4 linked regions of the Homo sapiens genome follow. The protein of the gene in region 2 purifies or fractionates together with the protein of the main gene of each other region. This does not show direct contact. Each region holds a gene or a part of one and is shown on either strand. Other genes may lie near its edges.

The links.
Region 1: the proteins of SUMF2 (region 2) and MSRB2 fractionate together in Homo sapiens (co-fractionation; one large-scale study listed by BioGRID). This does not show direct contact.
Region 3: the proteins of SUMF2 (region 2) and IDS purify together in Homo sapiens (co-immunoprecipitation; one study listed by IntAct). This does not show direct contact.
Region 4: the proteins of SUMF2 (region 2) and EDN3 purify together in Homo sapiens (co-immunoprecipitation; one large-scale study listed by IntAct). This does not show direct contact.

What each region holds. Positions count from the first base shown.
Region 1 is NC_000010.11:23,114,125-23,122,519, forward strand, and holds the end of MSRB2 (methionine-R-sulfoxide reductase B2, mitochondrial precursor), read left to right. Parts: intron 1-4,921; coding exon of another isoform or gene 4,922-5,051; exon of another isoform or gene 5,052-5,179; coding exon 5,180-5,327; intron 5,328-6,633; coding exon 6,634-6,738; 3' UTR 6,739-7,889; downstream 7,890-8,395. UniProt on the Homo sapiens protein: Methionine-sulfoxide reductase that specifically reduces methionine (R)-sulfoxide back to methionine.
Region 2 is NC_000007.14:56,070,786-56,074,285, reverse strand, and holds part of SUMF2 (inactive C-alpha-formylglycine-generating enzyme 2 isoform b precursor), read right to left. Parts: intron 1,290-3,500; coding exon 1,175-1,289; intron 113-1,174; coding exon 68-112; intron 1-67. UniProt on the Homo sapiens protein: Lacks formylglycine generating activity and is unable to convert newly synthesized inactive sulfatases to their active form. Inhibits the activation of sulfatases by SUMF1.
Region 3 is NC_000023.11:149,487,792-149,495,423, reverse strand, and holds part of IDS (iduronate 2-sulfatase isoform a preproprotein), read left to right. Parts: intron 1-3,756; exon of another isoform or gene 3,757-3,886; intron 3,887-4,983; coding exon 4,984-5,110; intron 5,111-7,632. UniProt on the Homo sapiens protein: Lysosomal enzyme involved in the degradation pathway of dermatan sulfate and heparan sulfate.
Region 4 is NC_000020.11:59,304,433-59,312,827, forward strand, and holds part of EDN3 (endothelin-3 isoform 1 preproprotein), read left to right. Parts: intron 1-8,395. UniProt on the Homo sapiens protein: Endothelins are endothelium-derived vasoconstrictor peptides.

The sequences.
Region 1 (8,395 bases), on a different chromosome or scaffold from region 2:
GGATCACTGCAGGTCAGGAGTTCGAGACCAGCCTGACCAGTATAGCAAAATCCTGTCTCTACTAAAAATACAAAAACTAGTTGGGCGTGGTAGCACATGCCTGTAATCCCAGCTACTAAGGAGGCTGAGGTAGGAGAATTGCTTGAACCCAGGAGGTAGAGGTTTCATTGAGCTGAGATTGAGCCACTGCACTCCAGCCTGAGTGACAGAGTGAGACTCCATCTCAAAAAAAAAAAAAAAAAAAGCTGTGATTATGAAATCACTGTGAAAATGTGAGGGAAGTGGCTGCAACTTCTTGAGCACTTACATGCCAGACACTGGGCTCTAGTACTTTGCAAACAATCCTCACCCTCCAATAAGGAGCTATTAAGACCCTCACTTAACAGATGTGAAAACTGAGGCTTAAAGAATTTAACTAACTTGTTCCAGGTCACTTGTCTAGTAAGTGATAGTGCAGGGATTTGGGCTCCACTGCACTCTTCTTGAGAGTGGGAAGCACCCCAGCAATGAAGGAGCCCTCTGGGCACGCGGCAGGTGCCATGCCCAGGCTCTTCATGTGCATCGTTTCGTCAGACCTCTCGGCAGCTCCCCGTAGTGTTATTATCATTCTCATTTCACGTGAGGAAACTGAGAGCTAGGAAGATGAAATAACTTGTCCAGGGTTCTGCAGCTTACAGGTAGCCAGCCAAAATATGAACCCACAGTTTTGGACTCCAGAGCCCACATTCTTCACTAGCTGAGCTTCCATTAAGCCACACGGGCAGCTCCGTTGACATAGGTGCCATCGCCTTTTGGTGCCTGCTTTCCTTATTACAGGTGTAAGTTTCCCAGAAGACATAACCAGCCTCTGAGAGTGATCCCAGCCAGTGTAACTCATGAGTTCCCTTTCCAGAGCCTTGTTCCCAGCCTCATCCACCAGACTTAGCGTCATTCTCCTCATCATCCTATAATTGTTGGAATGAGTTTGGTGCACAGTTTTGGAGAGCTTCTGCCTCTCCAAATCAGACACCTTTAATCAAAGGTGTCTGGGTCAAGAACACTTTCCAGAATGTGTTGTCACACTCCTAGGGACTCCAGACTCTCTTTCCTTAACTCGGAATGAAGTGACATTGCCCATCACTGCCACTTCCTCTCCTCCTTCTCCCTTTCTTCTTCTACATGAGCCTATTTGGAATGTGTTTATTAAAATCTATTGTGGGATCACATATTTCATGATCACAAATCTTCTTAAAATAAGAGGAAACAGAGCCTGATACTAGTTCACCTTTTACGTAATATCCTGATGTCGTATGTACCATGAGTAACTAAGTAATATTGTTAAAAACCTTCTGTATGCCCCATTCCCTCAAAGGAATAGAAATTCTTCTAAGAGGTTAGGGTTGTCAGTTATCACCAAGTGCCTGTGCTGTTGGTTTGGGACCTGTAGAACTTCCAGAAATCAAGGAAAACCAAAGCAAATAAAACGAAACAAAGTAAAAATCCCTTAGAGTATATGATTCAGAATGGTTTTAGTTCTTCAAGGGCAAACCTTACAATCTGCTAATCACTTAAATATGTATATTGGAATTTCTGATTGGCTTTAATATTTTGGTTCCCAGTCTTAACTTATATATGTTAGGCCTCTCATATTACTTGGTAAAAATCTCCCGATTCTGCTAATTGCATCAATAAAGGTTTATTGTTTCCCATAAAATGCTTTAATGAGTTTTTATTAGCCTTAGTTTCATTTATTTAAAAAATTTTATTGTATTCATAATTCTCAATCAAAATACCTTTAATGATCACTAGTTGATATATAATGTTGAGGATGGAAAGACTGGGATTAAAAGATACTTAATGATGTTTTTCCCTGAGCAGAGTGGCCAGATGAATGTTTTTGAACCCCTGGAGGAGGGTTGCAAAGAATCCGACCTGAATATGCAGACATTTCTAGTTGGACCCACAACTGCTCACATTCCATAGATTTCTGGTATTAATAATAAAAAAATATTAAAAAATAGCTACCAACTCAAGTGCCATGTGTCAGGTACTATGCTAAGCACACACACAGAAAGTGAGGTGATAATGCCATTGCTATTGTTAGCTTAAAACAATCATACAATCTATAAATTTAGAAAAGGAGACTTTATTTCTTCTAAAGGGTTACAGCCTTCAAGGTGGCCATCCTACAGGCTGGGAAGCGAGCTCCCAGCCAAGAGCAGATGCAGGCACTTGGAAGGGGGAGCAGCTGGGGTAGGAGCTTTATGCTGAGAGGGTTGGCTAAATATACCTATTTAACAGATCACAGAAGGGGCTATGAAAATTTGTGAAGATGGTCCTGACATACACATATTGAACAAACATGCATGTAACATATGACCTATGTTTATTTGGGGGTAGAAACTTAACATTTAAATGTATTATAATTAGATCCTATACATCAAAAGGTCTTTCAGGATATGAAGGCCCACAAGTGCACAGCCTCTGTAAACCATCCAGAACCACTTCATGGTCTTTTAATCAGGAGAAAGTTACTAAAATCAGTCTCTTGTGCAATCAAAGCTGTAGTTACGGCTGGTGGAACAGAGGGTCTCAGCTAGTCAGTGTCTGATGGTAGATGAGCTGCAATTGCTTCAACACTGCTTATCTCAAGGCCAGTGATTGTTTAGCTGCTAGAGAAGAAGAAAACCCCTGTGGCAGTTAGAGTTGATTCTTTAAGTGTAGGGGTGCATGACTTCACCCTCGCCTGGCATGGCCTTAGGTCCTGTTTATAATTTGGTATATTATTGCCACAAAGAGGCTGTTCTGCCAGTCTTATGATCTCTATTTAAACATTAATGCTGGTCATTTGTTGTGTCTAAACCACAAAAGGGAGAGGGTATAATGAGGTGTGTCTGACCTCCTGTCCCATCATGACCGGAAACTCGATTTAAAGGTTTTTCTGGAGTCCTCTTGGCCAAGAAGGGCTCTATTCAGTCAGTGGGTGGCTTAGAACTTTATTTTTAGTTTATACTTATCTATAGACTAGGATGCTGAGGCTTCAAAAAATTAAATGACTTGCCAAGGTGATACAGATGTAACAGACAGATCCCAGATTCACACACAAATCTTTCAGAAGTCAAAGCCCTTCCTCTAATGGCTATACCTGTGGTTCTTAAAGCCTGGTCTGAGGACCCCAGAGATTCCTGGGGGGGACCTTTCTAGGGGCTTTTCCAACCACACTTGAGACCACTTGAGGCCACATCCTCTTATACTCCAATCAAAACAACATAGCAACAGACTGAATTCAGAGGCACATATGAAGATTCAGTTGTCTTTTTTTTAAGCCGGATGTTAAAGAGCCTTGCAAAATTGTAAAACAGTGCAACTCTTCTCATGAAATGTTTGTTTCATTTTGAAAAGTATAATTATTTGCCTTAAATATATGTTATGTTAACATATAATAAATTTATTTCAGGTTGAGCATCTCTACTCTGAAAATTCGAAATCTGAAATGCACCCAAATCTGAAACTTTTTTATTTTTTGAGACAGAGTCTCGCTCTGTTGACTGATCTCCACTCACTGCAACCACTGCTTCCTGGGGTCAAGTTATTCTCCTGCCTCAGCCTCCCAAGTAGCTAGGACTACAGGCATGCACCACCATGCCCAGCTAGTTTTTCTATTTTTAGTAGAGAGGGGGTTTCACCATGTTGGCCAGGCTGGTCTCGAACTCCTGAGCTCAAGTGATCCACCCGCTTCCACCTCCTAAAAAGCTGGGATTATAGGCGTGGGCCACCACGCCAGCAAAATTCGAAACTTTTTGAGAACCAACATGCTAGTCAAAGGAAATGCTCACTGGAGTATTGCAGATTAAGGATGCTTAGCCATCAAGTAAAATGCAAAATTCAAAAAGATCTGAAATCCGAAACACTTCTGGTCCTAAGCATTTCAGATAAGGGGCACTCAACCTATATTAAAAAAAAATTAATGCACACATATTTTTAAATTCTCATTTATAATGTATAATTTGTTAAATGTTGACATACGTAACTCACAGACAAAAGCTCTCAGCAATCCCTATTAATTTTGGGGACACAGAGGGGACATGAGGGGTGCCGAGACCAAAATGTTTGAGAATTGCTGCATTACACAATTGTTTCTGTGGGAGTTTGTGCTGCCAGCTAGGCTTCCTTCTGTGTTCATAGTCTAGGGATTTGATTCTTTGCTACTTTTTCTTCTTAGATTAGTTTTTTGTTTTTTTTTTTTTTTTTTTGGCTGGGTCTAACATTCAGTTCTTCTCTTTCTTCCTTAGATAGAGAGAGCCATTTCCTTGCCACAGCAATTTTTGAAGTCTATTTTCCCAGTGCCATTTAAGGGAGCTTATCCATGAGAGCACTTAGAGGGTGGGTCTTTGGTGAGTGGATTTGCCTGCTGTCCTTCTCCTTGTGCCAGCATCATGAGTCCCTGGGAGACTTCTGGAGGGTTAGGTTTCACTGCAGTGATTGATGCCAGGTACCCAGGCGTATTAATTAATACTAATCATCACCATCACAGCAAGCATTCAGGGAACTTACCATGTGCCCAGCACCGTGCTAAGCTTTATGTCACACTTCAGTTTCCCCTCAAATCCTCAAAACAGCCCTGTAGGGTAGATATTATTCCCATTTGCTAGGTGAGCAAACTGAGGCTTCAAGAGCTGTGGTTTCACACAGCTAAGAAGTGGCCAGAGGCAGCTTTTGAATCCCTGGTCAGGCGTCTGTGTTGAGATAACCTGAAATTCCTGTTGCCAAGCATGACTTTCTCATCAGACCTTACACTTCTGCGCTGCTCTAAGATGATGATGACTTCCTCCGAGCATTAGTATTTCGTTTTGATTTCTCCCCTTTTGACATTTTCAACACATGGGTTTGATCTGTGTTACCTAATATGCAACACAGTTCACAAAACACCATGTGTTTTTAGATCCTTGTTGGATATCCAGAAAGAAGTCTTTAGCATCAAAGGATCAAGAAGTCCTTCCACTTCGAGAGGCAATGGCTTCGATAGTGAAGGTGCAGTGAGGACGATTCCGGGGGGACTGACTGTCGAATAACTGGGCATGGGATCTGGCAGAGGAGAGTGGGAACAGATCCTGCTGCCTGGAACAACACATCGGGGCACCTCTTGGCATGTTAATGACAGTGTCATTAGCAGCTGTAGTATCGTTTATGTCTTCCACAGTTCTGAGAAAAAGTACTGCTCTGGCACTGGGTGGCCTTCGTTTTCCGAGGCTCATGGTACGTCTGGCTCTGATGAAAGCCACACAGGGATCCTGAGACGTCTGGATACCTCGTTAGGATCAGCTCGCACAGAGGTTGTCTGCAAGCAGGTGAGGTTTCTCATTTTGTTTTACTTTCCCTGATGCTGCCCCCAATGCCACAAAGAGCTCTCTTGTTCTTGGCAAATCTGGTGTCCTTTTATAGGGGTACTTTCTTTTGTCTTCAGAACACATGGGGTTTCTTTTTTGTTTTGCTTTGTTTTGTTTTGTTTTGTTTTGTTTTGAGACAGTCTCGCTCTGTTTTGCAGGCTGGAGTGCAGTGGCATGATCTCAGCTCACTGCAGCCTCCACCTCCTGAGTTCAAGTGCCTCAGCCTCCCGAGTAGTTGGGATTACAGGTGCCTGCCACCACACCCAGTGAATTTTTGTATTTTTAGTAGAGATGAGGTTTCGCCATGTTGGCCAGGCTGGTCTCAAACTCCTGACCGCAAGTGATCCACCTGCCTCGGCCTCCCAAAGTGCTGGGATTACAGGCGTGGGCCACCACACCCAGCCCAGAACACATGGGGTTTCTACACATGCCAATAACGATCACTCTCTCCCTTCAATCTGGGCACTGCAAAAAAGAGAAAAGTCTTCTCCAGCCTCTCTCTAATGTGGCCTTTCCTGGTTCTAACCTTCCACAGAGATGAGAACAGAGGTAGGATCTTCACCTTCTTTTGAGCAGGGATAAGGAGCAGGAAGTCCTTATCCTGTCAGAGTGACTGGCATCTCATCTTTGACTTACCCAGTGTGACTGGCACCTCCATCTCTCCACCCTCCTTTTGCACCCTGCAGCGTGTCACTGGCCTGCAGAGCAATGCTGCGGGTGACGTCAGCACCTCTGCCTTCTGTGAGCCCCGTAGGAGAGAGTGGCTTAAATCCAGATCACAAATTCATTTTGATATCCTTAGCTGCTCACATTTTCTGACTCATGGGTTTTGTAAAACATTAGAGGCAAGCTGATTAAGATAGCGTGGTTTTGCCTTAAGTAATAAATAATAATAATACACTGGGTACTACAATATTATTCAGTACTTACCCAGGAATTATGTTAATGCTTTACATGTAATATATCAATTAATTGTCCCCACAGCTCTCTTATGTAGGTATGATAATTATCCCCATTTTTAGATGAGTAACTGTAAAGGCCCAAATTTAATAACTTGCTCACATCCTATTGATAAAGTAAAACTATTTACCATGACTGTGTTCTGCTTTCTTTCATTTCTTAATTGAATTCGGATGCAATAGACTTTTTCTCCTAACACAGATGTCAGACTCCGGAGTGGAGTGATTTTGGGGGGGTTCGTCTGTCTGGTTTTACATAAAGAGCTTTGTTTGCATTTGGAGATGACAGAGGCTTCTGTCCTTTGCAGTGTGAAGCTCATCTAGGTCACGTGTTTCCTGATGGACCTGGGCCCAATGGTCAGAGGTTTTGCATCAACAGTGTGGCTTTGAAGTTCAAACCAAGGAAACACTGACCATCTTCAAGAGTCCCGTTCCCTTGCCACCCCTTCACGTGCACCCTCAATTTCCACAATTCACTTGAATGACTTGTTTTATTTGCAATAAAACTGGGCTGAATTTGCTGCTGTCTCCAGCGAGTCATTGCTTCTCTTAATTTATTTACCTGGAATCAACTTAATCCTGTGTGTTAGGCTGTTCTTGTGTTGCTATAAAGAAGTACCTGATCAGGATCTGGGAGAATTTGAAAAAAAAAGAAAAACTAGAAAAATAAACAAAATTAAAAAGAAAAAAAAATACCTGAGACTGAGTAACTTATAAAGAAAAGAGGTTTAATTGACTCACAGTTCTGCAGGGTGTACAGAAAGCATGGTGCCAGCATTTGCTCGGATTCTGGGGAGACCTGAGGGAGCTTTTACTCATGGCAGAAGGTGAAGGGGGAGCCGGCGTCTCACATGGCAAAGCAGGAGCAAGAGAGAGTGGTAGGGAGGTGCCACATACTTTTAAACAGCCAGATCTCTCAAGAACTCACTCACTGTCACCAGGACAGCACCAAGCCATGAGGGATCCACCCTCATGACCCAGTTACCTCCCGGCAGGGCCCACCTCCGGCACTAGGAATTATACTTCAACATAAGATTTGGAGAGGGAAAACATCCAAACCATATCACCCAACTCCCACTTGGAGTAGAACTTCACAAAACGACAGAGGGACAGCTGTTTCCATCAAACACTTCCACAGCTTCACCTGAGACGAGGGCATGACTCTGGGAACATCAGGAGGCTGATGGACTATTAAGCCAAACAATTCCTACAAAAATTCCCTGCACCTTCCACTGCGTTTCAGTCCTTGACAGACATAAGTAAGGGATCAAGTGAGAAGAGGAAGGAAAATACAGGATCCAAGGAATCAACAATGCTAGCACTGAAGAGCAGGATTACGGAGGAGCTGTGCTCTGGGAGCATATATGGTGATCAATCAGATGCATGACTTTTTTTTCAAAATTTTAAATGTCTTGAGCATGCTACTTCCAACCATTCTACCCACAAATAAACTGCAATAGGACTTGGTTAGATTTCAATGATTATGAATAAATGTTCACCTTCATACCTTCTGGTTACAAAGCTAAACTTTAAAATGTCCAAATAAAATATTCACTAAAATTTATGTTTGCTTTTTGGCTAAGTCAATGAACATGCTCTTTTATAAAAAAAACTCTAGCCAGGCGTGGTGGCTCACACCTGCAATCCCAGCACTTTGGGAGGCCAAGGCAGGCGGATCACCTGAGGTCAGGAGTTTGAGACCAGCCTGACAAACATGGAGAAACTCCATCTCTACTAAAAATACCAAGTTAGCCGGGCATGGTGGCACATGCCTGTAATCCCAGCTACTTGGGAGGCTGAGGCAGGAGAATTGCTTGAACCCAGGAGGTGGAGGTTGCAGTGAGCCAAGATCACACCATTGCACTCCAGCCTGGGCAACAAGAGCAAAACTCCATCTCAAAAAAAAAAAAAAAAACAAAAACAAAAACCAAAAAACAAAAAACCTCTAAATTAAAAATGACAAATAAGAATTGGCTCACATGGTAGCAGGCATTTGGTTATACCAAGACTAATAGCAACTCAAGTATTTCACAAATCAAGAGTCTTGAATAATTTGTTACTGAAAGTATA
Region 2 (3,500 bases):
GGAGGCTGGGCCTGGAGAATAAGAGTCAAGCAGGGGTAGAAAATGAGGTAGCGGAATCAGCCCTTACCTGCCTCCAAAATGCCTTTTCCACTGGAAGCCACCAGAGTACAGACTGCGAAAAAGAAGGAGACCGACTGCAAGATGCTCCGGCCCAGCAAAGGCACCTCCCCGACTGAGCCACAGGACGCAGAACAGAGACGTCAGGCTGAGACTCAGGTGGTCTAAGTGAGGTTGTGGCTGATTTTTTTTTTTTTTTTTTTTTTTTTTTTTTGAGACAAGATCTTGCTCTGTCACTCAGGCTAGAGTGCAGTGGCACCATCAGAGCTCACTGCAGTCTCAACCTCCTGGACTCAGGTAATCCTCCCACCTCAACCTCCTGAGTAGCTGGGACTACAGGTGTGCATGACCATGCCCAGCTAATTTTCTTTTTTTTCTTTTTTTTGTAGATATGGGATCTATGTTGCCCAGGCTGGTCTTGAATTCTTGGGCTCAAGCAATTGTCCCACCTCGGCCTCCCAAAGTGCTGGGGTTACAGGCGTGAGCTGCTGCGCCCAGCTGAGACTGGAATCTTTATAGAGCCCATCTTACCACCCTTATTAGAGGTTGGCTTGCCAAGGTGATCTCTCTTTTTTTTTTTCTTTTGAGACACAGTCTCACTCTGTCACCCAGGCTGGAGTGCAGTGGCGCCATCTCGGCTCACTGCAACCTCTGCCTTCCAGGTTCAAGCGATTCTCATGCCTCAGCCTCCTGAGTAGCTCAGATTACAGGAGCGTGCCACCATGCCTGTCTAATTTTTGTATTTTTAGTATAGACGGGGTTTCGCCATGTTGGTCTTGAACTCCTGACCTCAGGTGATCCACTCACCTCAGCCTCTCAAAGTGCTGAGATTATAGGCATGAGACACCACGCTCGGCCCACCAAGGTGATCTCTTGATTCAAGTTCCTTGGATCCTATCCTGACTTGGACATTTAGGCAAGAGCTAACTTGGGTTCAGGGTTAACTTCCTGGGAGTGTGTACTGATCTGACGCTCCATGGTGAGTTTCTCTTGCTTCCCCTCTGCCTCCACCTCTCAGGTCTGATTCTCCACTGTGTCCCAGGTAACCCATGTCCCACAGGATTCCCTGTCCAGGTCCCACTCCTATCCCCTCAGCTGCAAGACCAGGTTCTCTCACCTTCATTGGCTGGGTGGCTTTGTTTCTCAGCTCATCAGAGACAAAGTCCTCAAAGACAAAGCTCCATCCAAACATCTCAGCTTCTGTCCGATACTTTTTCTCCCTGACAAAATCCCTATAAAGACATAGTTCAGCTGGTTCAGCTGGTGAGGTTCTGTGCCCACCCCATCTTCTCCTGCTCCAGGAAACTTCAGATATCCCTGTCCTGTAAGTTATACACCACAGAGTGTTCATGATTGCCAAGGAATTAACCTGAAGCCTGAGTGATTTTCTTTTAAATTAGAATACAACGAATTCACATACAGTAAAATTCACTCTCTTCAGTGTTTAGTTCTGTGAGGTTAATTAATTTTTTATTTTATTTGTTTGTTTATTTGTGTATTTATTTAGAGATGGAGTCTCACTCTGTCGCCCAGGCTGGAGTGCAATGGTGTGATCTCGGCTCACTGCAAGCTCCGCCTCCCGGTTTCACGCCATTCTCCTGCCTCAGCCTCCCAAGTAGCTGGGATTACAGGCGTCTGCCACCACGCCCAGGTAATTTTTGTATTTTTAGTAGTGACAGGGTTTCACCATGTTGGCCAGGCTGGTCTCGAACTCCTGACCTAGTGATCCACCTGCCTCGGCCTCCCAAAGGGCTGAGATTACAGGCGTGAGCCACCACACCTGTCCTATTTATTTATTTTTTTGAGACAAAGTCTCACTCTGTTGCCCAGGCTGGAGTGCAGTGACACAATCTCAGCTCACTGCAACCTCCACCTCCCAGGTTCAAGTGATTCTCTAGCCTCAGTCTCTTAAGTAGCTGGGATTACAGACGTATACCACCACGCCCAGCTAATTTTTGTATTTTTTGTAAAGATAGGGTTTCGCAATGTTAGCCAGGCTGGTCTCGAACTCCTAACTTCAGGTGATCCACCCAAAGTGGCCTCCCAAAGTGTTGGGATTACAGGTGTGAGGCACAACACTTGGCCAATATTTTTTTTTTTTTTTTTTGAGACAGAGTCTTGCTCTGTCTCAAAAAGACTGTTGCCCAGGCTGGAGTGCAGTGGTGCAATCTCAGCTCACTGCAACCTCCACCTCCTGGGTTCAAGCGATTCTCTTGCCTCAGCTTCCCCAGTAGCTGGGATTACAGGTGCACACCACCATGCCCACTAATTTTTGTCTTTTTAGTAGAGACGGGTTTCACCATGTTGGCCAGGCTGGTCTCAAACTCCTGACTTCATGATCTGCCCGCCTCGGCCTCCCAAAGTGCTGGGATTGCAGGCATGAGCCACTGTGCCCAAATTATTTTTTATTTAATTATTTATTTATTTATTTATTTATTTATTTTTAGACGGAGTCTCACTCTATGGCCCAGGCTTGAGTGCAGTGGCATGAACTCAGCTCACTGCAACCTCTACCTCCTGGGTTCAAGCGATAATCTTGCCTCAGCCTCCTGAGTAGCTGGGATTACAGGTGTATGCCAGCACACCCGGCTAATTTTTGTATTTTTAGTAGTGATGGGGTTTCACCATGTTGGTCAGGTTGGTCTTGAACTCCTGACCTTGTGATCTGCCTGCCTCAGCCTCCCAAAGTGCTGGGATTACAGGTGTGAGCCACTGCGCCCAACCAATCATTTATTTTTTTGACACCAGGTCTCACTCTGTCACCCAGGCTGGAGTGCAGTGGCACAATCATGGCTTACTGTAGCATCGACCTCCTGGGTTCAAGAGATTCTCGTGCCTCAGCCTCCTGATTTATTTTAATTATTTATATTTTGAGACTGGGTCTCACTCTGTCACCCAGACTGCAGTGCAGTGGCATAATCACAGCTCACTGCAGCCTTGACCTCCTGGGCCCAAGCAATTTTCCCTCCTCAGCCTCCCAAGTAGCTGTGACTACAGGTGCATGCCACCATGCCTAGCTAATTTTGTAGAGATGGGGTCTCACTATGTTGCCCAGGCTGGTCTAAAAATTCTGAGCTCAAGTGATCCACACACCTCGGACTCCCAAAGTGTTGGGACTACAGGCATGAGCCACTGTGCTCAGCAGTTCTGTGAGTTTGACAAAGCATATAGTCACTACAATAATCAAGATACAGAATAGTTCCATCGGTCACCTCCAAAAAAATTTCCCTGCAACTCACCAACCACGGACCAGGTTTTTTTGTCCCTATAGTTTTGCCTTTCCCAGAACACCATATAACTTGAATCATACAGTATGTAGTCTTCTGGGTCTGGCGGAGGTTTCCTTCACTTAGCAAAAGGCTTCTGAGATTCATCCATGTTGTTGCCATTAGTAGTCTGTCCCTTTTTATCGATGAGTAGTATCTTATTGTATGGACATACCA
Region 3 (7,632 bases), on a different chromosome or scaffold from region 2:
CTGTAGAGTATTGTTTAAAGCAAACACAGAACAAAACCACTGCATACAGATATCCCTTGCTATCCAAACTTACTTGGCCCCTGAGTTTGCACAACAAGAGTTTGGTTGGTGAGAGGTGTACATTCCTCAAATGTATTTGATTCCTGTTTCACTGAGAGTTTGGAAAGCAATGCATCCATCTGTTTGTTTTCTAATTTTGTGTTTCTGGGCTCCTGATGGTGAAGTGGCTTGAACTGGCTCTGAGGCTGCACCTGGATGCTTTATTAGTGATGGTCACTTAAAATGACCCTTCAAAATGGACTGTGTGCCAGGAAGGGCGCTGATTCATGTGTGGTATCGCCTTTAGTCCTCATGGGGACTTAGTGAGGTACCTGCTCTCTGTTGTCTAGGTGAGGAAACTCAAGGCATGGGAGGTGTGCTGACTTGTCTGACAGCACAAAATTAGTGCTGGGTGGAGCCAATTCATCCCCAGGGACTGTAACTCCAAAGCCCCATGGTTGGATCTGTTGGTTCCCAGCAGTGTGGGTTCGAATTCATGTTCTACCTCATACCAGCTGCCTAACCTCTGTCAAGTCATGTTACCTCCCTGAGCCTCCCTGAGTTTTCTTCTCTATAAAACTGAAACAAGGTAGGTAAAGTTTTTCCATGATAACACCTACTTTAGAGATTTTCAGCAAGAACCAAAGAGAGCATGTAGAAGTATCTAGGACCGTGTCGGCTGCACGGAGCTATCTCCTTCAAGTTCTCTTAGTCCCCTCCTTACACACAGTGGACAGCATGACTCAGAGGGCCTCCCTGATGCCTGCATGTGCTGGTCTCAGCCCTGTGTTCCCCTTGAACTCTGGCCTGCTCACTGTCCTCTTGTAGCTTTGGATGTCCGCATCCAAGCCCATCTCACTGCACCCTTGAGACTCAGCTCTGGGATCTCTTCAGCTCCAGCCCTCTAACTCAGCTCTACATGAGCCAGTGACCTCAGGGGCCACACTCAGGAGTTTGTTGCCTGCTCCTTCCGAGTCACCATACTGACCACAACCTCTTCTCCTAGCACTTCCCTTGCTCTACCTCACGGGGATTGCTAGAGTATGGATTTCTATCTCCCCCTTGTGTCCAGGTCCTGTTGGCTTTGTTGCTTCCCTAAATAGCTAAGGCCTGGTGGCAGGTGACTTACTGTACTTCCCAGCCGCCCAGCTCACCATACTTGTCCATTTATCCTTGCCCCTCCTGCAGTACCTTTATCGTCAGACACTCCAGCCACACCCTCTGCTCTGTAGTCCAAGTCCTGAAAGCTGCTGGAGAAAATCCATGCCCCCACGAAGCAGGGAGGCCCTCAGATGCCCCGCCTCCAGCCCCAGCAGCCCAGGCAAGCTCTCTGCTCAGCTCACCTCACTTGTCCTCTGCAGCTGCTCCGTTTGCATGACCTCTTCTCTACTCCCTTTCACTGCTCCCCTCCAGGCCTTTGCCACCCCTGTGCCCCATTTCTCAGTGGATAGCACCTTTCCTCTTGTAGAAATGGAAGCTGGTGGACAGCCAGAGGTAGGGGATCGGACAGGGTGGATGTGGGTACGCATCCTGGCTGTGCCCCTTATCAGCTGTGTGACTCTGGGCAAGTTAACCTTTCTGAGTCTTGGAGTCCTTAATGTGCCGTTCACAGGATCAGATGCCACCTAGTGTGTACTTGCTGAATGGGCTCTATTAATAATCTCTGTCACTGAGACCTGGAATTTTGTGTATGCATGTTCTGGGCTCGAGGCCTCTTCCCTCAACTCCCCACCACTGTCCCTGCTTCCCACGTCTGCAAGCAGAATGAGCAAGATCTTCCTTCTCACCTACCTACCCTGCAGCCTCTCCATCCACTCTCATCCCTCCCAGCTGCAAAAGTGCCAGCCCCCTTGCCCCTGCCTGTTTCTGCTTTCCACTCCTTCACCTGACCTCCAAGGCAGAGCGAGTGCACACTGGGCTGTTCTGGCTGTGTCTGTGGCCTCATTGTCCATTTGTTCTTCACCATCCTCTACACAGGCTTCCACCTCCCCAATCCACTAAACTCTCACCTCAGCACTGACCTTGGTGGCCAGTAAAATCTATCTGTGTAGGTCCTGACCTTCCTTGAGCTCTGTGTCACTTCCTCACTGTTGGCCAGCTCCACCCCTTCTGGGACTGTTGGCCTCCCAATCCTTTCTGTGTCTGCCACTTAGGTGCCACTTCCCAGGCCCCCCACTATATCCTTTCCACCTCTTCTTCCCCTGCTGGGCTCAGTTGAGCCTTGGCAGATGACTCCAGAACTACCCCTTCAGCCCAGGTCTCTCCTGATTTTCAGATATGTGTGTTGACCTGCCTGTGAGAGCCATTCCTAGGCAGATGACCCTGGAGACCTCAGCTCCATAGGCTTCCGCGTGGTCAGGCCACCACCCCTGCCCTGCCTTTTCTCCTTCCTCCTCCTCCTCTTGCGCCCCCTGCCCCCAAATGCCAGCGAATTATGCCACCAGCTGAATGTGAAACCTGGAGTCACCCTTGGGTTCCTCAACACCTCCTCCTCCTCTGCTCCCTGCCCCCATGTCTGCTTGATGCCCCTGAATTCCTCTCACATCCACACAGTCCTCTGGATCCTTCAGCACATTGTTCTGGACCACCTCAGTGGGCCTTGCTTTGTTTTGTTCATTCAGCAAGTGTAGTGAGCACCTCTTATGTACCCAGCAGTGGCCTAGTACCATTTTGTCTAAAGCCTCTGGAATCTGTGTCTGTGTCCTGTTGCAACAGGACTCTTAATAACTTGAAGCCCAGATCATGTCAATTTCTCGCCTTGAAAGACCTCAGTGACTCCATTGGCCTAGAACTTGGAGTCTCCACTCCCTGGATAGACCCACCAGGTCCATATTATCTGGCCCGGACCTAACTTTCTAGTCACCCCTCTGCCCTCCCATTTGATTCTCCAGTCACATGGGCCTTTCATTGGCCCCAAATGCAACCTGCTCTGTCACAACTCCACACTGTTCCGTGCCCTGCAGCCCCTGCTTGGAGCATCTGAGCCCCATTTGTCTGACTGCAGGTGCTTCTTGTCAAATTCTAACTCCTCTGTGAAGCCTTCCCTGAATCTCCCAGGCAGATTTGAGGGCTTATTCCCCTGTGTCACCCCTGGGCCTCTGTGGGGGATCGGTCAGAGTGGTGGGAAAAACTATAGGGAAAGGATGCAAACCTTCTGAAAGGTCAGAAGGTTCTGCAGAGCCCCAGGGGAGAATAGCTGTTCTATAACCCTGAGGCAGAGGGCAAGGAGTAGGTACAAGGGAGTGTGGGAGAATTTATCTTAAACAGGCTTGTTTACTTATGTTGACCAGGAACTGACCTTTGATCGTCTGTGCTTGTGAGGTTCCCTGAAAGGGGAACAATAAATGTTAATTACCTGCAGGTTGGCTCTAGGTTTTTGGCATTATGCCTGCACTGAATAAAAGCCAGCAGCTCCAGCTTCTCGGGGCTGCTCTCTGGCCACTAGAGCCAGGCAGTAACCTAGCTGCTCTTATGCTGCATACCTGTGTCTGAGTACTCATTTCATCCATAGGCCAGGGTCTGCAGGACAGACCCAGCAGGCCTCACTGATAATTAAGCATTTTCTTGTCTCCATGATTGTGTCCTCACTGGATGGGGTGGCTCATCAAGGGTGAGGACCTTGTCTGCTTATTGCCTTACGTCCAGGGGCTAGCATAGGAAGGAGGGAATACCTTTGTATAGGACATAGCCATCCTGACAGGTGTCTTTCATCCCCAGGAGGACCAAAGTTCCACAGGTTTCAGACTGAAGACTTCATCTACCAGAAAGTATAAGTAGGCCAGGGCTCAGCATAATCCTGCTGGAAGGCTAGATGTATATCTTTTCTCTTGACTGCAAGTGAGAACGGGTGAGTCTCATGATTGTCCTCACCCTGGCAGTGATGAGAAGAAGCTGGTGGGTCCAGCTGATAAGTCAGGGGCTGGTCTGCGAAGACACGGCTCTCTTCTCACCCCTCTTTGGGGTGGAAGATTAATTTTTGTCCTTAGCATTTGTGAACCAGGTTGGGAATGAGAGTCAGCCCAGGAGGGGCCGGTGGCTCATTTACTTCAGGGCATGATCTGGCTGTTCCCAAAGTGCCTCTTGGGTTCAGGGACTGTGAAGGACGTGCTGCTCTCTGGTATCTCCTTTGCTCTTCTCCTGCCTGCTGACAGTTTGTTAGAAATGAGCTCCACGTAACGGCCATAGTTCATGAAGATATGCAGTTGTAATCTGCTGTTGGGTTAGCAAGTGATCAGAGGGAAAGGCTCAGTCAGGGTTGCTGTTATGTGTTAAATTATGAATTTTTTTTTCCCTGAAAAGGGCTGTTGACATCCTAACCCCCCAGTACTGCTGAATGTAACCATATTTGGAAATAGGTTTATTGCAGATGTAATTAGTTAAGATCAGGTCATATTGGAGTAAGGTGGGCTCCTAATCCAATATGATCGGTGTCCTTTAAGAAGAGGGGAGAGAGACACGGGAAGAACACATGAAGATGGAGACACAGTGATACAGCTGCAAGCTGAGGAATGCCAGGGACTGACAGCCACCACCACCAGCTAGGGAGAGGCAAGATTCTTCTACTTAGAGCCTTCAGGGAGAGAATGGCCCTCCCAGCACCTTGATCTTGGACTTCTAGCCTCCAGAGCTAGGAGACAATACATTTCAGCTTAAAACAACAGAGCAGTAGGTGACACATTCATCCACTGTGATCTGTGCCCTAAAGTGAAATCTGATTTGCTTAGAAATGTATCTTATTTGTAGACCTACAGATTTTGCTGTGACTCTGTGGGTGAAGTGATGCTGATGGTAGGGAAAGGAGTGTTACATTTTGGCTGAGAAAATCATTAAGGGCATCAACTAAGGGGTAGGGATTGGGAGAGATGCACAGGCAAGCATTATCTCTGTATGCCTTGGCAATTTAAATTGCAGTCACTCTCATTTTTATTTTTTTTCAATTTGCAGCGGAAAATCCGCCAGAGCTACTTTGCCTCTGTGTCATATTTGGATACACAGGTCGGCCGCCTCTTGAGTGCTTTGGACGATCTTCAGCTGGCCAACAGCACCATCATTGCATTTACCTCGGATCATGGTAAGCATTTTGAAATTCCCTGGTGAGTCAAAACATCTGAACTTTCCTGTGAAACATGCTTTGCAAAATTGCCATTGACATAAACATGGGTGTGTTCTCTTTTGTGAACCAGTGGTTCACAAACAAAGTGGGATCCTGGGGCATTTTTATGATCAGCTTGTTAGTCCTGAGACCTCTGTCTTAGATGCTTGACGGATAGGTGTGGGTGGGTGGGGGAGGGTCTTGCAGCAACTTTTTTTTTTTTCTTGATGAATGCAGCAGGAACCCTCCATTTGTGTGGCAGAGCTCTTGTAACCCCCATTTTTAACCTGGAGGGTTGGAGGACTTTTAGTTTGGGTGGAGAGGATCCAGAACAATCCTGGCAGAGCCCAGCAAGCTCTTCACGCCTGGCTCCAGCCCTCCCACCCCTATCCCCGCTGTCTTCTCTGCCGAGAGCCTGGGCTTTTCAAGTCTTTATCTCCCCCTAAGGCTGTTTCCTACTTTTCCAAAAATGAAACTATCTTTTTAAAAGCATTTTTTAAATTCTTCAACATTCCAAGAGCAGGGAATAAAACAGCAGCTCCCCCCGTTTCCCACTCACATAGTCTTGTTCCTCTCATCCTCACCCACTCCCCCATCTCTGAATTGTTTCGAAGCAAATCCCAGATGGTTCCATTTTCCGATCACTGTCTCTGAAAAATATTGCCTCTTTTGAAGTATAACCATAATACTGTTATACTTAGAGAAAGGAAAATAATTTTCATATCATCAAATATGAAATAGGATAATAGTAAATCATAACATGTGCTTATCATGAAAAGAAAAAAGGATACAGAGCATGTAATTCAGGGCCAGAACATCCTGCCCTTTTCTCCCACCTGCTCAGGGCTAACAGATGACAATGGATTAGGGATCCATCTGCCAGCCATCAGTTGTGCACATATGCACACAGGGATATATGTTATACATGTGTATGTTTGTAACATGTATGTCACAAGATGTGATTGCTTGTTCTGTGTGTACTGTTAACGTTCCCTGGTTTTGTACACTTAATGTCATAGGCAATCTCTGTGTCATTTCTCAGAAGCCTACCTTTTCCCTTAGAAATGTCTGTAATATTTTATTATATATGGAGGTGCCATAATTTTTCACATATTCCTGATTATCTGCCATCTGCTTCTGAGCCCTCGGTGCCCAGTTTCCTCTTCTCCACGAACACACTCTGTTGTGAGGCAGTTGCCGTAGATTACAAATAGCCCATCTCAGAGTCCCCTCCTGGGACATCCTCCATCAGAACCGCCTGGGAGCCAGTAAAACATGCTGGTTTCTGCAACTGGTCTCAGGAGCTCGCAGTTCTGGGCATGGGAAAGTGCACTTTAACAGGTGTCTCAGGTGGTCTGGCCACCTCTCCCTGAGCTCATCATTCCCTGGGCCTCCCTATGTTGCCACGTCCTCATCTTGGGCCTCTGGGGCAGGAGCCAGAAACCTCCTGAGCTGCCTGTCAAGGTCATCGGGCTTGTTCCTCCTGATCTGGAGATGGATCCTTGGGGCCCACACAGGCACGCGTTCTCCTTAGCCAGACTTCCCCGTATTTGCTCCTGGCTGCAGCAGCACAGGCTGAGGCCCGGCACCAGATGTTCAATACGATCTTGCAGTCAGGCGGTCCACAGCTATTTCTGTAGCATTTGCCATGTGTCAGACCCTGTGCCAGGCCTGGGGGCCCCCTCTGCCTGGTGCAGGGCAGCTCACAAAAGCTGGCAGAGGCCGAAGGCTGCGTGCCAGTATTCAGAATGCCACAGAGCGCCTGGCTGCTGTACCTTCAGAGCCTCCACAGGCACCCCAGTCAGAGTTCCGGGAGTGGATTCCTGAGGTCGCACTGCCAGGTTCCCTCACGTTGCCATCCTGCAGGCTTCTCGATCCTTGACCTTTTAGATTCCCGCCACACTGAATCTAAAAGGGACAATGTGACCTCTAAGCTGGTGGCCTAGGAGCCTGCCGATAACCTACCCATTCATCAGCCCTCGTGGGTCAAGGCTGCCTCGTCCTCCCCGAGAGAGTGGAGAGGTCGAGCAGTGGGGATGCCCCTCAGGCCCCGGGGCTTACTGACTGGGGCGGGTGTCAGGGGGAACTCCCTCTCTTTCTGAGCTCCACTGAGCTATCTGAAAGTCCCCACCATACTCCCCAGTACTGACAGCCAGAGGGAGGAACGGCTCACCAGAATCATTGGGCATCTCTGATGGGCATCAAGTCTGCTTTGATTATTGATGAGTGGGTAAGAGGGTCCTCTCAACTTGGGGTCTCCTTGGGAAAGCACTGTCAACTCAGAACAGGTTTCAGCCCTGTTCTGGAGACCACAGGCCCTGGAAGGCTGGGACATCATTTGCAGCCCCAGCGTCATCTATTAGACGGAGCCAGCAAGGTCTCATGCTGTGCGGTACATTTCAACACTTTCTCAAATTTACCCGTGGCAGCTTTTGGTGTGTTTGGTTATTTTTATAACACTACTCACTGTACAATTTCTGTCATGCACATTTTTTGTATCA
Region 4 (8,395 bases), on a different chromosome or scaffold from region 2:
ATTTCTCCCTGTCCCAGCGGCAGCTGTTCTGGGCACGAGAAGGAGCCTTGATTCTTGTGCCTCAGTCAGGGGTCTTGAACTTTGGGTGCTTTTCACCTTTCAGAGCCTTTCCTCCCATGGCGCATCCAGCTGCGTGAAGACAGAATCAACACTCCTAGTTGATCTTTGATGGAAATTGCTCTGAGTACGGTCATTTTTGCTCCCTTCGAGGATCTGAGATGCTGCAGGAGTCATATTGGGAGTTACTACCGAGACCCGCTTTGCATCTCCTCAAGGGAAGTTAACTGTCTAGTTCAGGCTCAAGAGACTAGTTGGTCTCTTAAGTCTCTTTTGGAAAGAAGGTCTGAGATTCCTCGGCTGTCCCTTTAGCCCTCCTGCTTTTTTCCCCTCCTTAGTCCTTCCAGACCCGAGCTTGGTCGGCCCTTTCTGTTAGCACCCAGCATGGCATGGATGCTCAGGAAATGCTGGTTGACTTTTGGCTAAGTCCTGCCACCTGGGTACTCTGGCTCATCTTTGCTGTTGCTGAGCCCCTAAATCTCCAGTGCCTTCTCCCACACAGGAGGCCTCTTTCTCCAGGTGCCTGGCTGCTCTTCAGGGGCCTGCACATCCCTGTAGACAGGGGTGGGCAAGAGAGTTTTTCTTGGGGATGTTGCCCATAACTTCTGTGATATCTTCCCAAAAGTCCATCGCCCCAAAGAGGAACCAAATTTATACTTACCCTGTCAAGGCTGCTGGGATCACAGTTCATCAATGGGATAGCATGATTTCCATTAGCCTTTCCTTGGCTGTCCCCCACAGTCCCCAAGCCATCCCACCACTGCCAACAAAATCAAAGTCCCAAATCAGAGAAAAACATATCCCATCCTATTGTCATGGATAAGTTGCCAAGAATAAGATAGTAAGGGGACAGGTGGTGAACAAGGGGTCCGTGTGCTGATGTCCTTGTACACTGCGGCTGTCCTCTATGAGCAGACTGAAGAAACAGATACCAGGTAGCTGGGGCCTGTAGGAGTCAGGGTTCTCTAGAGAGACAGAACCAACAGGGTGTGTGCATGTCTGCAGATTATGCATATATCAGAAGTGCGGTTGCCAAAGGAAATATTTGGTTGCTCTTGGGGGCCATGGACTTTTATGGAGGATAAACAGAAGTTATGGGCAATGTCCCTCCAGAGATATATATATGGAGAGAGACAAAGAGCAATTTTCAGAATTTGGCTTACATGATTGTGGGGGCTGGCAGGCCAGAAATCTGCATGCCACCAGGCTGAAAATTCCCGAGGGAGTTGATGTCAAGGAGGTCTGGAAGCAGAATTCTTTTCTGTTCGGGAACCTGTCTTTTCTGTGAAGGCCCTCAACAGATTGGATGAGGCCCACTACATTTTGGAGGGTCAGCTGCTTTGCTCAAAGTCTACTGATTTAAATGTTAATCACATATCAAAAATACCTTCAGGGCAACATCTAGGCTGCTGTTTGACTAAACAACTGGGCACAGTATCCTAGCCAAGTTGACACCTAAAGTGACCCATAACGGGGATGTCAGCTCGAACCACATTTCATGGCGGACCAGCCCCTCAGAGCCTGGCTGAAGACTGAAAACCTGTTTATCCAATGGCTGACTGAGCTGTGAAGCACCCAGCAAAGAGCCCCACTGTGCTCCTCCCCGCCCCATGAGCTGAGGGATCCTGCCATCTGTTCATCCCTCTAAGGACATCTGAGGGAGGCATTGTGATGCTGGATGGTGACTGTGTTTTCCAAACCAAAATCTGACACACATGGGCTGGCAGATAGGAATGTAGTTATGAAAAGAACAGGGCAGGATGTTGGGAATCATGATCATGGTGGAAAATTTGGGATTTGCAGTCCCGACTTGTGGAGAAGACTCCAGAACCCAGAAGTGCTGCCCTTGAGTCCTGGCCATGACTATCTGTGTGGCCTTGAGCCAGGAGGTGCTGTTGCCTCTCTGTGACCCTCTGGAAGGTGCAGACATCAGCCGCTCCAGGACAGTGAGCTGCCAAGTCTCTCCTAATCCCAACAGTCTGATCAGCTCCTATCAAGATGCCCAGGCCGGCTTCCCAGGCTGCCCTGGATCAAGCCACACTAAACTTAATCCAGCAGGAATGCCATTTCTTTTGAGTTTTTTTCTCCCCTAAATGCATAAAGAGTAAAAAAAAAAAAAAAAAAAAAAAAGCATTAACAAAACATTTAAACTTGTATTTTAATGTATTCTACCACAAAAGGGCAGCATCACAGATTCTGGCTTTGCCTTCTGTGTTCTTCAAGAAAGGCATCTTGGCATGGTCTCAAGAAGAGATATTCCAAATTTTAGAACATCCCAATAGAACGGTTGGATCTGGAACCCCAACTTCCTGCACATGAGGAGCCAGCTGAGCACCAGAATGTGATTTTGGGATCCCGATAAAAGTCACCCTGGGCCAGGCGCGGTGGCTCACACCTATAAACCCAACACTTTGGGAGGCTGAGGTGGGCAGATCACTTGAAGTCAGGAGTTTGAGATGAGCCTGGCCAACATGGTGAAACCCCGTCTGTACTAAAAATACAAAAAATAGCCAGGCATGGTGGCATGTGCCTGTAGTCCCAGCTACTGGAGAGGCTGAAGCAGGAGAATCACTTGAACCCAGGAGGTGGAGGTTGCAGTGAGCAGAGATCACGCCACTGCACTCCAGCCTGGGTGACAGACCAAGATTCCATCTCAAAAAAACAAAAGTCACCCTGACCTGTGAGCCACACCTGGCAGTATCATTGTTGGACATGTGGCCATATGAGGCAGAGGGCCAGTCTTTCTGCCATCATGGTTTTGGAAAGGGGTCATGAATAGTCTGCTACTAATCATGGATGGTGAGGATGGCTGACCATGACTGTGACCTCATGTCATCTCATGGGATCAGCTTGACAGCCCCATTAGTTGGATGCTATTGTCCCTGTAGTTTACAGGAAGAAGCTGAGCCCAGGAGGCGGAGTCAGTTGGCCAAGGTTGCAGAGCTTGTGAGTAGGGACTGGGCTGCCAGCCCAGAAGTTTGGCCCTGAAGCCTGCCCTGTAAGCCTCCTCCTGTGTGCATGTTCCCAACATGGGCTTCTTAGGTGACTAATATGCCATCTTAGATGACTCCTGCTTTCGTTCATTTAATATGTTTTCCCAGAGTGCCTCACCTGGGTCAGTATTGAATGGGGCTCTGGGACCCAAGAATGAATAAAAGACATGGTTCCCCATCCGTGACTGATTAAGGGTGGTTTTGTTCTTTTTGAGACAGTGTCTCATTCTGTCGCCCAGGCTGAAGTGCAGTGATGCAATCATAGGTCACTGCAACTTTGAACTCCTGGGCTCAATCGAATCTCCCACCTCAGCCTCCCGAGTAGCTGGAACCACAGGTGCGTGTCACCATGCCTAGCTAATTTAGTAATTTTTTTTTTTTTTTGTAGAGATCGGGTCTTGTTACATTGTTAGGGCTGGGGTTTTGTTCTTTTTGATAGTGATGATTCATATATATAATTCTATGTAATCATATATTTACCCTTTTGCAAGATTATTTTTATTAACATATGTTAACACATGGGCAAAACCCAAATCCTTGGTCCATCACAAGTCCTAAATTTTATTCTGGAAATGTAGCCTTGGCTTGCATAGAAGCATGTGATTTTCCTTTAGCCTACCAGAGCCCTTGGTGGTTTCTCTGTGGGTAAGAGGGGCTGGTTGAGTGTGCACTCCAAGCAAACCAGAAGGTTTGTCCTGATGTCAGAGATGCTGGGACAGAGGGGGCTGAGTCTAGGCGAGAGGGCGAGGGACCCCCAGGCCATGAGTCTCATTCCTGGTGCAGGATTTTTCTTTTCTTGGCTGCTGCTCTGTGCCTTGTTCTGTCTTCTTGCTTCTTGGTGTGGTTACGGGAGCAGGGCAGACATAGGAGGTGGGACTGCTCAAATCCATCTCTTCTTGCAGATCCAGCTTCACACTTTGGTTTAGAGACTCCTGGGGTTTAGAGAGGAATGGGGCCTGGGGCCCACTCATCCAAATTGTCACGTGGAGGAGGAACAGATCCCTTTGTAGGGGTTAAGAGCTCAAACTGTGGGCTCGAATGCCTGGGCTGAAATCTGGATCTGCCACTTAGGAGATGTCACCTCTGAGACCTTCAGTGTCCCCATCTAGAGAGTGGGGGAATAGATAGCACTCTATGAGGAAAGATGTTTTCAGGATGACACAAGAAAGTACACAGGGCGTGGTTAGCACAGCGCCTACAATCTAGTAAACACTCAACGTCTTGAAGATGGTGGCCACAATGATAACAACACAACCTCCAGCCCTGCAGAAGCCCTTCCTGGGCCAAAACCAGTCCTCCTGCCATATCCAATCCTGTGATTGGAGGATGCTGGCTGGTGAGTAGAAAGTCCTTGCTCAAGTTCTGCTGGGGTCCACCTCTTTGGACCTTCTGACTCTGATCTTAGCTCCTGGAGTGCCCCGGAGCAAACCTGTCCACCCTGTCCCCTGCAGGACGGTCTGTTAGCCTCAATTAGCAGAAAGCTTACAGACTCTGGGAAAAGGTGTGCCTGGCTGTCTGCTGTTGCTGATAAGCAGCCTGATAAAGACTCTGTGGTCAAAGGTTGCTGGGCTGGGCTGAGATTCAGTCCCGCCCTTCCAGCCCCTCCTTTCTGCTTTCTATTGCTTCCCTCTCCCCTTGGTAAATCACTGAAAGTTTTCAGTAATGGGGCATGGCGCTCTTTGCGGGCACCCGTCTGGGGCTGTGTCTGTGAAATAGGAGGTAGGGGTGGTGATTGGGGTGATTAGGGTCTCAGTTCAGGAGAACAGGAATGATCTGTTTACCTCTTTGTTAAACACCTATGCTGAGAGCTCTGTGAGGCATCTGTGGCTCTCATGTCCTTGGTACGTCCAGCAGAGTAGATATAATGCCTTGTAATTTGCAGCTGAGGACCCCATGGGGCACCAGTAGCCTCACTTCTGACTTCACCCAGCATTGCCCAGGACCTGAAGTGGGTGTCACCAACTGGGAGTCACCAGGAAGCAATCGAGGAAATCCCACAGACATCTATTTAGAAAACATCATTTCATGATGTGCTTTTGAGACGGGCATGTGAAAGAAGAGGGTGTTGGCCAGATTAAAAGGGACCCTGAGCTTGAGGTTCTGACTGATCATGGTTTCAGGAGGTTTTTCCCCTCACATAACCATTTCTATCTCTTCCTTAGAAATTAGCACACTTTTGGGTACCAGTTTTGAGTTGGAGTGGCATATTTCTTAGAACACTGGACGGCAAGATACTTCTTTAAAATTGGGGAGACTTAGGGCTAAGTTTCGCAGTTTGTTGGAAAGGTCAGTCCTACGAGGACTTTTCTGTTGGGGATGCACAGGTAGAAAGCCCGTTTTCTGCCCCAGAGTCAGCAGGAAGTGTGAGTGGTCCAGGAACAAAAACAGACTTGGTGGAATGCAACTAATCTCCACTTGGGAGACAGAGGGACTTGAGGCTGGAAGGCAGTTTGATTTGTAGCAAGAAAACTTGGTACAAAGAGGTTGTGACCCTGTGTGACCCCGAGGGAGAATTTGGATTTGTGCTAGATGAAAGGGCCATTACAGTGAGGAACTTGGCCTTCAATCTGAAGGCACATGAAAGGCTCTGATGTGTCTGGTCATGTTTGTTCCTGCAAGAATTTAAAACAAAGGAAGCTGGGAGGCAAACAATGCTTCTGCTTTATAATTCCAGTTCCAAACCTCAGAGGGGGAGCTGTAAAGGGTGACCCTGTCTACGGCACCACCCCGCGTTCCAGTGTATTGGAAGTGGATGGTCTCTGTTTTGCATGAGAAAGTGACCTGGTCTCCTTCCTTGTCATGTTTCAGTTGAAACAGAGTTCCTCAAAATTGGAAATGCACACACACATACACACAGACTTTTGCCCACTTTGGAATAGAAATTAATTGCACTCGGAAAATAAATTGCAGAGCATGGCTGAGTACAGACAGCCACATGTGAATGAATTGTTTGTCCGCATAGTTTTGGGGGCTTCGGAATCCTGGCTCACCCACCAAACCTCCCAAGAATAGACAGACAGGATGAGGCATCAGCTCTCTTTCTCATCTGCCCCACCTCAGAGTCTTAGGAGGGCCAAGAGCTTTGGGAGACCTTGGGGACATTCACAGGCTTGGAAGCACTGGCCTCTTCTTCTTTTGTGGCCTCCTCAGGGCAGACTTGGTGGGAGCTCTTAATAAACAGTAACTCAGGAACAGAACAGTCAGGGAGGCCTGGTCCCTGGCCCAGTAATTGAAAAACCAGAAACAGCTTCATTTCATATGCATTGATGACAAAAGTACCGACAGACGCAACCAAAAACATGACTGGCCCGCTGGTGGACAGTTTCGCCCCACAACTTGGGGAGCGCAAATTGCTTTGCCGAGAGTCAGAAGCAACTACATGAGACAGCAGAGGTCCATGTAACTTTTCTGGATTTTTAGGAATCTGATTTCCATGGGTCTCTTGCAGGGCTGAGAATAGACTGGGGTGAGTGAGGCACTCCCTCATGTACAAACTTTCAGGAGGCACCAGAAAGTAGGAAAAAACAAGTAAAATGTAATGCACTATTTTCAGAAAGCCAAAATGAGTGCAAAAAAAAATTCATAATCGACCAAATATTGTTTTTAGTAAAGGCAGGATCCAGCCCTGAGCTTGCTCCACTTACCTCACCTGCCTCACCCTAATCCCAGCCCTGGCATCTTGCTTGAGGATAAAGCCTGTGTCTCTAATAGAGACTCAGTAGTTTGAGGTAAGTGATAAATCTATTGGAGCTATTACTGGAAAGGGGTCCCGATCCAGACCCCAAGAGAGGGTTCTTGCACCTCGAGCAAGAAAGAATTCAAGGCAAGTCCATAGAGTAAAGCGAAAGCAAATGTATTAGAGAAGTAAAGAAACAAAAGAATGGCTGCTCCATAGAGCAGTGGTATGGGCTGCTTGATTGAGTATACTTACAGTTATTTTTCGATCCTATGCTAAACAAGGGGTGGGTTATTCATGAATTCCTGGAACTGAGGTTCCCCCTTCCTAGACCATATAGGGTGACTTCCTGATGTTGCCATGGCATTTGTAAACTGTCATGGCGCTGGTGGGAGTGTCTTTTAGTGGCTAATGCATTATAATTAGCATATAATGAGCAGTGAGGACAACAGAAGGTCACTTGGGTTGCCATCTTGGTTTTGGTGGATTTTGGCCATGTTTTTTTTTTTTTTCCACGTCCTGTTTTATTAGTGGGAGTCTTTGTGAGCAATGTCTTGTGTGGACCTCCCGTCTCATCCAATGAGTAAGAATGCCTCACCTTCTGGCAATGCAGCCTCATTCTACCCAGCCCCTATTCAAGATAGAGTTGCTCTGGTTCGAACACCTCTGACAGAGCTACCAAAAGGGCATTACACAAGGACACAGACAATTAGGTTAGGTGGAAGATGAGCGTATCTTTACGGTCATTGTGATGGTAAGCATAAGTCTTGCTCATGAAGATCTTTTCCATCCTTAACCTGGTATCTCCTGAAAATTAGCAAGAGTGTCTTCTCTTGCTTTCTTTAAATTATTCAAAGCATGTATCATGGTGTCGGCATTTTTTTTAATCCCTTTGCACATAACCCCATCCTTATGAAAATACTTGCTCCCTGTTTTCCCTCTTCTCTTTCCACTGCTGGGAACTATTTTGAGCCCTGTCTGTCTGCAGCTTTGCATAAAGTTATAATGAGGCTGGGCCAGGCAGCCATGGATTTCTCATGCCTACATTCGGCCTGGAATTCAGAAGGGTCACTGGGGGCTGGGGAGAGAAACTCTAGCCTAACTCGTTTGATGCATTTTGGTTGTACCAGATGGAGGGAAACTGCTAATCTGTAGGATTCCATAGACGGCTTAATTCCCCAAGTTTTGGAGGAGTTTGTTTCTCTAATTTTTTTTTTAGCCATAAGTCTTGAAAATCCTGCACCACATAACAAAAACCAGAGGTATTTTTCTGTTGTTCTCCTTTCCTTTGACCCCCTGGTGCTTCCTCCAAGTATCCTTAAGTGTGCAGGTGCCTGTGTTAGGGGAGGAATAGGTCTATGGTCCAATGAGCTGATGAGATGATAAATGCTGCGACTTTGAGATTCTTTTTAATCTCAGCCTTATGGTAATAGGCCATGGAAGAGTGTAAACAGTTTGGGCTAAGGCTTTCTAAATACAGTTGATGAGATCCTGGGAACCACTTATCTTGGGTGGAGTGGAGCACCTCACTTTGAGTTTGGTGTTAGCGCTGGGGCAAAGGTCTAAGGCCTTCTCCAGTGATTGTGCTATTTAAGGATGTTCAAGGGATGGTGAGGGCCTTTGGAAACATCTGAGTGGAGTTTGGAGCCAGAGGGACCCTGGAGAGACC